Regions from separate parts of the Homo sapiens genome. Here regions 1 and 2 are each reported to be linked to region 3. The links are microRNA targets in miRTarBase. Many come from high-throughput screens and were not tested one by one. Region 3 holds a microRNA gene; each other region holds the end of a gene's coding sequence.
What was found. Region 3 holds the annotated microRNA hsa-miR-148a-3p (UCAGUGCACUACAGAACUUUGU, at 2,345-2,366, opposite strand). A microRNA usually pairs through its seed, bases 2 to 8, with sites in the 3' UTR of a target mRNA and lowers its output. Matches are read on the target gene's strand: a 7mer-m8 pairs with bases 2 to 8, a 7mer-A1 pairs with bases 2 to 7 and ends in A, and an 8mer does both.

Region 1: the mRNA of PLPP4 is a reported target of hsa-miR-148a-3p. Seed matches in the 3' UTR shown: 7mer-m8 at 2,562-2,568.
Region 2: miRTarBase lists HLA-G as a target of hsa-miR-148a-3p. The part of its 3' UTR that is shown has no 7-base or 8-base seed match.

What each region holds. Positions count from the first base shown.
Region 1 is chr10:120,589,305-120,593,379 of GRCh38, reverse strand. It overlaps PLPP4 (phospholipid phosphatase 4), which reads right to left. Exons shown (of 7, transcript NM_001030059.3): 7 at 1,315-4,075. The coding sequence ends at 3,878. Among named protein-coding and RNA genes, the nearest start is that of LINC01561, 6.6 kb to the left of the region's middle.
Region 2 is chr6:29,830,124-29,834,198 of GRCh38, forward strand. HLA-G (major histocompatibility complex, class I, G) reads left to right here. Exons shown (of 7, transcript NM_001384290.1): 6 at 255-287; 7 at 645-898. The coding sequence ends at 259. It also overlaps the pseudogene HCGVIII-2. Among named protein-coding and RNA genes, the nearest start is that of HLA-G, 4.3 kb to the left of the region's middle.
Region 3 is chr7:25,947,578-25,953,060 of GRCh38, forward strand. It overlaps MIR148A (microRNA 148a), which reads right to left and starts at 2,409; the gene lies at 2,342-2,409. The region is part of intron 6 of LOC105375199 (a long non-coding RNA gene); the gene reads right to left. RefSeq lists an enhancer at 450-519 and silencers at 3,363-3,502, 3,633-3,852, 3,973-4,182.

The sequences.
Region 1 (4,075 bases), not on the chromosome of region 3:
GCTCTTTAGGAGAAGGGCAATTCAATAGGGCTAAATAGATTGACTAAAGAGCTGGCTCTTCTGCTCAAATTCTAACCCACTAAGAAGACATGTGAGCCCTAAAGGAGACTGCAAACAGCCTGCTCTACATTTTTATGTGACTGATGTGCCATTTTTGTGTTTTAATTAAACAAGTTTGGTGCTGTCACAGATGCTGTTCATTGTCAACCCAATGGCCATTGTTTAACCCTTTTCCCAAGCAGGTAGAATCTTTCTCCTGCAAAGAGACTGAAAATGCTGGATATTCACTCTTCCAAGCCCCCATGACTTCTGGGGGTGGCCATCCAACATCATTCTAGCCAATGCAAGTAAAGGGGATATTTCTCAGGGGTGCTGGGAAACATTTTCTTCCCTGATAAACAGACCGACAAGTAGAGTTATCTTGTCACATGACTGGGCTCCTTTCTTTCTTCGTTTGAGCATGATGGGATGAGGATGTGATTCTTGGAGATGCTGCAGCCACCTTGTGATCATGAGGGAGAATCACTGGCATACTGAAGATGGTGGAGCAAGAGCATGGGAAAGCCTGGGGGCTTTGAGACCACCAACCTCTCAATTTCTTATTATTTTTAATCTTAATAAACCCCTACTGATTAAGCTTCTTTCACTGGGGTGTATTGTTGGTTGCATTCTAATGTATCTCAATGGAAACAGTTGCCCAAGGTAAAATCAAACAATCTCATATAAAATGAAGATTCTTGACTTCTCTTGGGGGAATATGTGTTTGGGCTGGGCGCTGTGGCTCACACCTGTAATCCAGGCACTTTGGGAGGCCGAGGCAGGCGGATCATGAGGTCAGGAGATCAAGACCATCCTGGCTAACACAGTGAAACCCTGTCTCTACTAAAAAATACAAAAAATTAGCCGGGCATGGCAGTGGGTGCCTGTAGTCCCAGCTACTCAGGAGGCTGAGGCAGGAGAATGGCGTGAACCCAGGAGGCCGAGCTTGCAGTGAGCAGGGATCGCGCCACTGCACTCCAGCACCACTTCCCTGGGGTGTGTGCTTTTAGTCTTCCACAGTCTCCACTATTCCTTAATGACCCCACTTGCCTCATTCACTGTATTCTCTTCCTAGTACCTCAAGGTATCTGAGCTTGTGGCTGCCGATCTCTAACATGGACTCTGAGTAAGTTTACTCAAAGAGGAAGAAATTCCGACATCCCACAGCTCCCAGGGTGGGCTCGGACTCTTCACACTGTGTGTAACCTGCTTTTCCAAAGAGACTGAATTAGGAACCCCACATCCAAAAAAAAATCAGGGGTTGAGGAATAAACGTTCTCATTATGGCCATTTAATTGGTACACTGTGATGTTATATTTACTTCACGTGAATAGAGCATGAAATTGAAACATAAGGATCTGTAAAAATGCCTGCCTTTTGTGAACTGGCTTACACTGTTCATTATGGCTCCTGAGGATCCTACCACCAGCTTCATGTTATTACATCATCTGTAATTTGAATTATATTTTAATCAAAGCTTTTACATGGCCAGTATTAGGATTTTCCATGTAATTATCAGCATTAGTAATACTCTGTTGTTACTTTGCAGAGTACTTCCTGGCCATTTATCTTTAAATAAAATTATTTATATTAAATTTACACTTGATGGTCCAGAATTTTAAGTCTTTATTAACTGAAGTACAACCCTTTTCCTTTCCTCTTGCTCAGATAAAACTAGAATCAAATAAGAATGTGGGCCACATCAGGATGGGGTTTTTTTTTTTAACAGTAGCAAAGGATCTTTTTCCTACATTTCTATTTTGGGCTTTATTTTTGAAAATTATAGAGTTTTTAGTTAAATTAGAGTATTGTTTAATTTTCTAATTTTAAATGAATTTTAGCTCAGAATTTAAAATTATGTCTTTTCAATTGCTATGATTTATCTCTTAAAATATCTCACATTCATCTTCAAAGTTGCTTGCCAATGTAACTGCTATAATTTTTAAAAAATCAATGGCTTGACTTTGGATGAAAGTCAATTCAAGCCTCCCCCTCTCCCACTCCATCCAGGGGACAATCACATGACCGTGCCAAAGCCAGTTTGGAAGGACCAGGGCTGGAGAGGGCTGCACTGGGGCTCATGGAGCATAGTCAGTGGTACATGCACTCCAAGCTTAAGCCCATGGAGCTTAACAGAAATGGCTGATCAAAGATATTCTGATGCTTCTAACTTGCACACGCAGCCCAGGGCTGATAAGCTGACCATTTAGGCAGCCACCTGAGTCTCTCAAAATGCAGTCTGTTATGCTAACTGCCCAAAAGCAACACTCTTGGCCAGGTGCAGTGGCTCACGCTTATAATCCCAGCACTTTGGGAGGCCGAGGTGGGCAGATCACTTGAGGCTAGGAGTCCGAGACCAGCCTGGCCAACGTGGTGAAACCCCGTGTCTACTAAAAATACAAAAATTAGCCAGGTGTGGTGGCGGGCACCTGTAGTCCTAGCTACTTGGGAGGCTGAGGCACGAGAATAGCTTGAACCCAGAGGCAAAGGTTGCAGTGAGCCAAGATCACGCCACTGCACTCCAGTGCAGTCTCGACACAGCGAGACTCCATCTCAAAAAAAAAAAAAAAAAAGTGACACTCTGGATAGCAAAGATGCATCACCTCGTAGCACCCAGGCCCAGGAATCTGAACAACCACATGGTACATCCAATCAGAATTGGATGAAGGGGATGCTCCTTGCCTTGAAAAAACTAGCTGGCCAAGGAGCAGCGTGCTCTATACTCAGACTGAAAAAGGTTCATATTGACTGGCTGTATTCAACAATGCAAAGAGCTGAGCGAGAGACACAGCACATTCCTGATTCTGTTCTTGTACCTTCTACCAGAGTCCTATCATGCTGAAATATTGCCAGCTAGATAGGAACAGGAACACACCACCACTTGGAGAATCCTTAGAGCAGAGCTCTGCAAAACTCAGATCCTAAAGGGGAAAAATTCTCAGCCTGAAGTTGCTTCTTATCCCCAATGGCCACTCAGCCACTCCCTTGAGATGAGCCCCAGGCATGCGGTTTCTGATCTGTGAGATCGGTCACATCACTTCTTGCAGAAGAGCCAAGTAAAGCCCCCGTGCCCCAAAAATTCACTGTATGAGGCAGAGCTACAGAAGTGGCTCCATAAACTTAGACTGGAAGATGGGAAGGATATTGTGCCCATGAACCCTCAGGCAACTGCTGTGACCTCATCCCCCACACATGCACTCATGCATCTTCATGCTCATTGTGTTTGGTGGAAGTCTGTGCATGAAGTTATTAATTTTATTTGCTTCCAGATTCAATGATTCAAAAGCCCTGGAAATGCTCAAGCTGTCACTCCAAGTTTCAAATCTATTTTAGAGACGTGGGCTATGAGAAGCTGATGGCTCAGAAAGGTTCTGAGCCTTTGCTTCCAAGCTCAGCACCTGGAATGACCTACAGACAGAGCTGGCTTTGGGTCTCTGAGAAACCTGCTGCATCTCCAAATGACTTGTTGCGCTGGGTGGCCAACACCAAGTCTTCCACGTGGGAGGTTTTATTATGTTTTACAACCATGAAAACATAGGAAGGTGGCTGTTACAGCAAACATTTCAGATAGACGAATCGGCCAAGCTCCCCAAACCCCACCTTCACAGCCTCTTCCACACGTCTCTCAGAGATTGTTGTCCTTCACTTGCAAATTCAAGGATGTTGGAAGTAGACATTTAAAGTAGCAGGAACACCATCAGTGAAACAGAAGCAGAAGTACGATGACTTTGAGAAACAACTGATGAAAAATACACTACAGAAAACCATTTCTATTGTGTTATGATGTCAGGGTGGCAGATGTGCCCAGGGCTTAGTGTCCATCCTCCCAGGACACTGGTCATACCGGGCCTTCGGTGATCCCCTCCAGAGGCAAGCTGGGTGCGCTGTCAGCTGTGGGCCTCTCCTCTTTCTTCAGTGAGGCTGGGACTCGCAGACTAACGTAGGGTTTATGGCAAGCTGTGTTGGCCAGAGGAGGATAGTGCTGTCTGTAGCAAATGTATGCAAAAATGAGGCCGATGACTCCACCCACAAAGGA
Region 2 (4,075 bases), not on the chromosome of region 3:
CCTTGATGATTGTAGTGATGGGGACCTGATCCCAGTAATCACAGGTCAGGAGAAGGTCCCTGGCTAAGGACAGACCTTAGGAGGGCAGTTGGTCGAGGACCCACATCTGCTTTCCTTGTTTTTCCTGATCCCGCCCTGGGTCTGCAGTCACACATTTCTGGAAACTTCTCGAGGGTCCAAGACTAGGAGGTTCCTCTAGGACCTCATGGCCCTGCCACCTTTCTGGCCTCTCACAGGACATTTTCTTCCCACAGATTGAAAAGGAGGGAGCTACTCTCAGGCTGCAAGTAAGTATGAAGGAGGCTGATCCCTGAGATCCTTGGGATCTTGTGTTTGGGAGCCCATGGGGGAGCTCACCCACCCCACAATTCCTCCTCTGGCCACATCTCCTGTGGTCTCTGACCAGGTGCTGTTTTTGTTCTACTCTAGGCAGTGACAGTGCCCAGGGCTCTAATGTGTCTCTCACGGCTTGTAAATGTGACACCCCGGGGGGCCTGATGTGTGTGGGTTGTTGAGGGGAACAGGGGACATAGCTGTGCTATGAGGTTTCTTTGACTTCAATGTATTGAGCATGTGATGGGCTGTTTAAAGTGTCACCCCTCACTGTGACTGATATGAATTTGTTCATGAATATTTTTCTGTAGTGTGAAACAGCTGCCCTGTGTGGGACTGAGTGGCAAGTCCCTTTGTGACTTCAAGAACCCTGACTCCTCTTTGTGCAGAGACCAGCCCACCCCTGTGCCCACCATGACCCTCTTCCTCATGCTGAACTGCATTCCTTCCCCAATCACCTTTCCTGTTCCAGAAAAGGGGCTGGGATGTCTCCGTCTCTGTCTCAAATTTGTGGTCCACTGAGCTATAACTTACTTCTGTATTAAAATTAGAATCTGAGTATAAATTTACTTTTTCAAATTATTTCCAAGAGAGATTGATGGGTTAATTAAAGGAGAAGATTCCTGAAATTTGAGAGACAAAATAAATGGAAGACATGAGAACTTTCCACAGTACACGTGTTTCTTGTGCTGATTTGTTGCAGGAGAGGAGAGTAGATGGGGCTGCGCCCAGTGGGTGCTCAGGCCACCATGAACTTTATGTGGTCACTGCTCAGCTGGGTCATCTTTGCTGCTCCATTGTCCTTGGCCCTTCAGTAGAACCTTGTCCCACCAGGACCTGTGATCACATAGACTTGGATATCACCTAGGATGGTCCCTACACGTAGAAGTTCCTGTGTTATCAGAAGAAAAATTTTCAGACCCCTACACCTCTTCCCCTCCTTCCAGGTCTCTTTCAATTGTATTTTCCATCTTTTTTTTTTTTTTTTTTTTTAGATGGAGCCTCACTCAGGCTGGAGTGCAGTGGTGCAATCTCAACTCATTGCAACCTCCACCTCCCGGGTTCAAGCAATTCTCCTGTCTCAGCCTCCCTAGTAACTGGGAGTACAGGCACATGCCACAATACCCAGCTAATTTTTTGTATTTTTAGTAAAGACGGGATTTCACCATGTTAGCCAGGATGGTCTTGATCTCCTGACCTTGTGATCTGCCCGCCTCTGCCTCCCAAAGTGCTGGGATTACAGGTGTGAGCCACCATGCCTGGCTTCCCCAACCTTCTTAAAGGAAGCAGATTCTGAAACTTCCCGAGAGGAGAGGTCCCAGAGTTTTTCATTGTAGTTTACTTTCTGTTGGAACTCCTCTTCTGCTCTCTCTCCTACTCTTCTTCCTGCCCTGAGTTGTAGTAATCCTATTGCTGGCTCCAAACCAAACTCATGGATTTGTAAAGCAGAGTCTAATTTAGATTCATATGTGGTTGGATAATTGGAGCCATAAGCCTTGGGTTATCTTTCCTCAAGAGACAAATATGGTTGTGTGCTGCAGTGTGCAGGAGGATTGGTGTGGGAGGAGGGAGGGAGGGAGGACACAAAAGCAGCCCTGGTGAGAAAAGCACTGGTGCATTTATATCCACATGAGATAATATTGTTCCACAGCGGCTACAAAATGACATTTGGCCTGAGTCTACATTAATAAAGATATTGCCTTTAGAATAGGGGGGCGCACTACAGTAATCATCCATTCAAGTGGCATTTGTTGTCTGCTAGGTATTTGACTGTTTTTGCATTTAGAAAACATCGTTAAAGTAAAAACAGAAAAATTTCTGGCCTTGTCGTGTATACATTCTAGATGCAAGCTTGTCCAACCTGCAGCTCTCGGGATGCATGTGGCCCAGGACAGCTTTAGAATGTGACGATTTTTTTGCTTATCTGTAGTGGCAGATATCATGAAAATTATCCATGCATTTTTTTTCTTTTTTCTATTTTTTTCTGCTCATCAGCTGTCATTAGTGTATTTTTTGTGTGGCTCAAGACAATTCTTCTTCCTATGTGACCCAGGGAAGCCAAAAGATTGGACACCTCTGCAGGCAGATGATATAGTATAAGCAGAGTAGGAACAGAAAATGCTTGAGTTAGAAGGTGGCAAGTGCTGTGTGGCAGGTGATCCAGAGGGTGGGCTGTGGGTACAGGGAGGTGGCTGTTGTGCTGGGTGGTCAGCATGGGCCTTGTTGCAAATGTGACCTTGGAGTAAAGATTTGAGGGATGTGAGGAGTTGTCTACACGGATGTCTCAGAAAGTTCTTTTCAGGCAGGGAAACCTTCAGTGCAGATGCACTAGGGCAGGAAATTGTCTGTGTTCCTGGAAGGAGGAAGAGGCCAGAAGTGTTGAACAGAGAGAAACTGAAATGAAGTCAGAGGTGTGCCCAGAGCAGGTTGCCCTGGAGGGTGTGGGAAGGATGTTGACCTTTGCTCTGAATGACATGGGGAGTTAGAGGACAGTTTTGGAAAGTGGGACATGGTAGGACTTATCCTTTGAAAGCTTCTCTCTGGCTGCTGTGCTGAGAACAGAATTGAGAGGTGGGGGACTAGTGAGGCAGTGGGAAAAACGGTGGGAAAGGAGTGCAGTATTCCAGGATGGAGACGTCGCTTACCTTGACTGGGGTGTGAGCAGGGGAAATAGTGGGAAGTGATGGGATTCTGGATGAATTCACAGCACTTGCTAATGGATTTATCTGTGGTGTGAGAAAGAAGAATCAAGGACACCCACAGTATTGGACTGAGTGAGCAGAAGGGTGGAGCTGCTGTCAATGGAGATGGGGAGACTCTGGCAGGAGCATACAGAGGAGAGGGCATTGCAGGCATCCAGTGGAGGTGACATCTACGAGGAATGAAGGTGAGGGGCCCAGATGCCTCTGCAGCTACAGATTCATCATCCAATCACTATCCTACTTCCACCACCCCTGTGTCTCAGAGCCAGAGCATTGATTCTCCCCTGTGCTGTCTGCACAGGTAGGTGAAAGTCAGGGAAGTTATGGTCTGCTGTTGGTTATAATAAGTCACAGATTATTGTGCTTTCTCAGATAATTAAAGAAATAATAAGAGAATTTGTAACTAGAACACTTACTGAGAAGACCACAATAATGCAAAGTTTTTTATTCATCTAAAGAAGGCAACAGAAGAAAAATAGTTGAGCAAGAAAGATAATATTAGAAGGCAGTAAATGAAAATGGACAGACTTAAACCCAATGAGGTCAACAATGACATTAAACGTAATGGACTCAGACACTCCAATTACAAGACAAATAGTGCAGAGGGATAAAAATAAATAAGTAAATAAATAAATAACCGTAGGCTATTTACAAAAGCCATAATTTCAGTAGAAGGTACAGAAAAGTTGAAAGTAAAAAGATAGAAAAGAAATACCAGACAAACATTCATGAAAGACCACATGGAGATGCCATTTAGAAAAATTACAGCACATGAGTCTCCTGAGACATAGAGTACATGTAGACAGCTCACAGTGTCTTTTTCCTTTTTTTCAGAGACAGGGTCTGTTGCCCAGGTTGAAATGCAATGGTGATATCAGACCTTACTGTAACCTCAAACTCCTGGGCTGAAGCAATTCTCCTGCCTCAGCCTTCTGAGTAGCTAGGACGAGAAGCCTGTGCCGCCACACCTGGCTATAATGTCTCATTTTCTCATTTGCTGTGGTGTGAACAAGGAAACAATATCATACCATGTATTTGAC
Region 3 (5,483 bases):
CTAAGTGTCCCATATGGGTGTAACATTTTTTACATTTTATATTGTATTTTTACTGTACCTTTTGTACGGTTAAATAAATCCTTACCATTGTGTTACATTTGCCTACAGCACTCAGTACAGTACCATCCTGCACAGGTTTGTAGCCCAGGAGCACTAGGCTATGGCATACAGCTTAAGTGTGTGGTAGTCTCTACCACCCAGGTTTAAGAACACTCACTCTGTGATGTTTGCAAAAACAATGAAATCGCCTAACACCACGTTTCTCAGAACCTATCCTCATCATTAAGCAATGCATGACTAAAGTTTCAGCTGCACCTGTTTGGTTCATTCACATAAAGTATCTAAAATAAAGACAGGAGTGCCAAGGCCATGCAAAGTAGGTTGCTAGTGATGGTTTCCTTTGCCCAGCGATCTGGGTTAAATGAACACCACGGCCTCCCCAGCGTTCCTTGTTCTTCCTTCCCTGACGTTTATCACCCTTCTGATTATTTTATATTTGTATTGTCTACCTCTTGCATGAGAAAGACCTCCAAGAGGGCAGGGTTCGGGGCCTATTTTGTTCACTGTTGCATTCGTAACGTCTAGAGTAACACCTGATGCTCGGGAGGTGAAAATACACTGATTGCTAAACGACTGAGGTCTATGAGACCATGCCAGGTTTACAGTAAGCACCCCAAGACTGCCGATTTTCCCAGTTCCTATTCCTGGCATCCTTAGCACCAGAGTAAACCACAGCCCTCCTGCTTGGTTAGTCCTTAACTCACTTGTGGTCACAAACAGGAGAAATGCAAATCACTTAAGCATAGAAGTCAAACCAGACTGAATCATGTCAGGGACTCCAAACCTTGCCTTTCTCTGGAGGTGAGAGATCCTGACCTAATTCCTTTGTATGGATGACTACTCTCCCAGTCAACCGCTCCACTCTTTACCTCCCATTCTCTTACAAAGTTGATTTAAGTTTTCTTAAAATTCAGTATATTCAGACTATCTTGTGGAGATGTACAGACATAAGAACTAGGAAAGAGAATCCTCTTCCTCAAGTAAGCATACCTTACATCTCAAATGAACACAAGACGTACTTGAGTTTGGATCACTTTATTTAACTGCACAGAAATAATTCAGCCATTTTTGGGTAAAGGATTGAGGAACAAAAGCAAAGCAGTCACTGATGGAAAAGTGGGAGAATGGATAATGGCCACACAAAAGAGAACACATGCTGCCTTAGGATCAATACACAGCATTTCTGTGAAAAGCAACTGGTAGGTCCTGCCATTAAGCTCTAACATCAAGCAGCTGAATACTTTCTCCCTCATTGAGCCTTCCTCCATTATCATCCCTCTCCCGATGATAAACCACTGGAATATACCTAAGTAAAAAAAATGGTGGCTTTCTTTACCAAGGGCTTCCCAGAGACACAAGCAACCCCCAGGTTTCTGAAGCATCCCATAAAATACATCAGAAGGCCCTTCCCTTACCTGTCAGCACCACGGGCACAGGAACCATTTCCTTTTTTCCCTACCACCCTGCGTCCTGTGCCTGGCCAAAAGCTCATAAAACCAAAACAGGGCAATGTCCATGGAACAGGACTACAATTTGGTGCCAGTCACTGACCCACTATAGAGAGCAGGCTATTGATAGAAACTCACCAACCCAAACCTCCATTCCACTAGGGATGAGAGAGCAGTCTCTCCACCTAAAGGATCTCCACAGCCCAAAAGCATAAATGTCCCCCTCCCCCAGTGGCTTTCAAAATGCTTTCTTGGAAAAAGTTCTTCCTTTCCATTAATAAAACTTACTTTAAAAAACAAAAGTGAACTGCATCTAAATCGGAAGCAGAATTGAGACTAGATCTCCAAACTCAATCCCTGCAGGCTGTCATTTATCCAGCAGGTCGCTTGAGTAAAAGGACCATTATCTGTGGCTTTTGTACAAATACATTTCCTTCTTTAAGGGTAGAGAGTTTAAATTCCTGCAAGGCACTGCACACTAACACACCCATTAATAAATCTGCAGCTCTCCTGGCTCAGTTTAAGTGAGGCCAGTCTTTCAGTACCTGTTAAGCAACCTTGAAAAGTCCAAAGCTTTATTTTTTTCTTCTTTAAACCAAAAAATTCTACAGTCAGGAGTCCACCAGGGTAAGATGAAGAGATTTGGGGGGATTTTGTTCCCATTTACAGGGTTTAACCCACCCGCTTCAAGGGAATTGGTCAAGTTCCTCGTGCTGCACTTGGACCCCCTCTGGCCTTGCCCCTCCCCCAAGGGAAAGGCGCAGCGACGTGGCCACCAGGGCCACTCGGCCTGGCGTCTGGAGCACTGGCGGCATCGGCGACCACAGCCTCTAGAGACAAAGTTCTGTAGTGCACTGACTTCTATCATACTCAGAGTCGGAGTGTCTCAGAACTTTGCCTCAAAAGACCAAACGTGCTGTCTTCCTCCAGAAGTTTCTTCCTGCAGGTGTGTTCCCCCACCCCCCAGCTAAGACAAAGAAGAATAACTCGTTAAAAGCAATTTAGTTCAGGATGCGACCGATAATGGAACGGGTCATTAATTATGGAAAGTTACTGCCGCAGTCAGCAGGAGCAAATGCCCAACAGAAATGGTGTTTTAACAGCCCGATTCGACAAATTCTGGTCGCAATGTCACAGCAAAGGGGCTGCAAGAATCGCACACTCTCCTTCCTTCCTACCCGTCCTCAGATTAGAACCCATTCCTGGTCGAACCCTCACCTCCCTCGGTAGTTATTTAAACTTTTGCCAGCAGCTAACTCACTCTAACTTGTGGCAACTTTTTACCTTCCCATCTGGAAAGCTGGGGGCGGGGGCGCTGCACGAGGACGAATATTCGGAGCTGAAAGAGTTAAACGGTGGGGAACAAATACAGGCCCGGGAAAAGCCCCTAAGATGGGACGACCCAAGAAAGACCCGCTTTGCGGGGCCTCCCCTGAGACCCCCTTCCCCAGCCATTCCCAGTACTCTATTCCCGGTCTTCCAGCCGCCCGCGCCCAGCCCCGGGAACTCGGGTCGAAGTCGTCCCATCCCCTCCGTTCCACCCACCCACTCTTTGGGATTCTCCCTGCCCCATTAGGCAGTGCTTCCCGCGGACCCCGTTCGCGCACAACCTTGCACACAGTCCCCAAGACTGCTCTTCTCCCCCTCCCGGCACCCCCTTTTCCCTGCAGCATAAGCGACCACTCTGTCCCCCATCCTAGCAGACCCCCTCCCCCCACATACCGCACCTGAACAGCTGTTGCGCGCGTGCAACAGGTCTGGAAAGTGCTTTCCCATCTTCCCCCAAACCCCTCGCCACCGTTCCATCCCCCGCCACCCCTAAGAGACAAGGCCGGAGGGGCAGTGGGCTGCGTCCCCCGGGCCGGGGTGCACGGGCGGCTGGCGGAGTGCGGGGCGCCCAGAGGCTCCCGGGGTTGGGGGCGGTGGTCGCGCTGGGCCGGGACACCTTCGCGAGTGGCCCCTCGTGCGCCCGCCGCAGGCTCCCCAGCCTGCCCCTCCAGCGCCGGCCGCCAGGCATTCCCGGGCCGGCTCCCCCCTCGCGCTCCGCTCCGCTCCCTTCCATCTTGACTTTTGCCGACGTGGAAATTTTGGGTTTGGAGACGACCTGCGCTCTTATTGGCTGCCGGCGGGCGGGGTCGGAGGTCACGGCTGCTCTCGCTATTCCGCGCCAAGGGGAGCCGCACAGCGGCTCGTGTCAAGTCAGCAGGTTCCCTCCGCCTCCCCCGGGGTCACGTGCGCCCCGGGCGGGCCCGGGAGACGCCTCCTTATGCAAATAGAGCGGCCGCGCGGGGCTGGGGGCGGGGGCGGGGTGGGCGGTGGCGCGTGGGGGCGGGGGCGGGGGCGCGGCCGGCGCTGGGAGGGCGGGGCGCTCCAGGTGGCCACCTGGCTCGACGTCCCGCCCCGCCCTTCTGCCCACCAGCCTCTGCCAGGCTGCCTGTTCCGCTTCCCGCGACACTCGGGCCGGGCGCTGTCCCCGGCCAGCCCCGCTGGGCCCAGGGAGCCCGCGTTTTGCAAGATGCCCCTGAATGCCCGCTTTCCCCGGAGCCCCCTCCTCCAAACCCAGCCGGAGCCCTGCCTGGGCCCGGTGTCTCCTGGCTGGGGAGGAGGCGGCGGCGAAGCTGCTGCAGGGCAGAGTGCGAAATGGAAACCTCGGGAGGACAGTTTCCTCCCCTGGCAGGGAGTTGAGAACTAAATGCGAGATTCCCGGTAAGGGAATTCTAGGACAAAGCAAAATCAAGAATTCATCAAGGTTAAAAGTCGTTTCTTTTAATAAACTGCCCACCACCCATCCCCAAATAAAAAGAGGCCAAAGAGCTAACTAAAAGTAGTAAAAATGCCAGTTCTGGATTTTTTTTTTTAACACGTCTACAAGGACTAACCGAAAGGCCGGTTTGCCTCCACCCTGACGTCTGCTGGGTACTGGGCACCCGAGACTGAACCAGGGGACACGTCCTCCTCTCCTCATCTAGATGGGGGTGTGACTCGGGGGAGCTCAGAATTCCCTGAGAAGAGGTCACGGGCACGTAGAATCAATTTTAACGTGGTTCCCCAAGCACGCCAAAGAAGATGCTGTTCTAGAAAGAAAGGGAAATTGATGAATGGCCACGTGACCAGGATGTCTTCCTTCCTTCCCTCTCCCCAAGGAAAAGAAAGTAACTGCATTGCAAAGGTAGAGCCCATGTTATAAATCGGACTCTCTGATGCCGGCCTGTAGTCACCAAGGAAAAAGAAGGGGACTGCATTTTAAAAAATATAAATATTTCTGAGAACTGGCCTAGTTATTTTTTCCCTCAGGTAACAAAGTATGTGTATCATCTTTATAATGGTTGCATCTGAAGTCTGACCTGGTGATACAGAAAAACATACATTTTTATGGGAAGATTCTTACCTGGAAAATTCTTCCCATCCACTCTTCTTAATTTACTTTCCTTCTCCCCATTTCCCCCTATGGAAAGATAAATCATTGCTCCTTCCAACTGTTTTATCCTCAAGGATCTTTCTCTCCACTCTCCTTTCTCTTCCCTCTCCACACTTGTTTGTTTATCTGACCATTCGCGGGTTTGCAGGGGCCTCTCCCCAGGCATTGTCTCCTCCAGCCCCCCACCCCCTCCTCGGTCAAGGCCCGGCGGCAGTGCTTGCTGGGGCTCGGAGTTTGTCCCCGCTCTGCTGCCTGTTCTGTTGTGTGCACTGGAATATTGATTTTTCAGTGTGTGTGCGCCGGCTCTGTAAAAATCAATATTTCAGTAGCTCGAGCACAGCGCAGGGCAGTGTAATGGAGCCAGCCTGCTGATGTAACGTGCGGGGTCCACCCTCAGCGATTGAGGTCAGTCAGAAAATGGCAGTGTTTTCCCATTTCATTGTTTGCTTCGGAGAGAAGGAAAGAGTTTGCATACCGTTGTGTACATCAGATTCCAGGATGAGGTAACCTTACTACTGTTGGGTAGCAGACGAACCAAGTTAGAAAAAAGACAACGA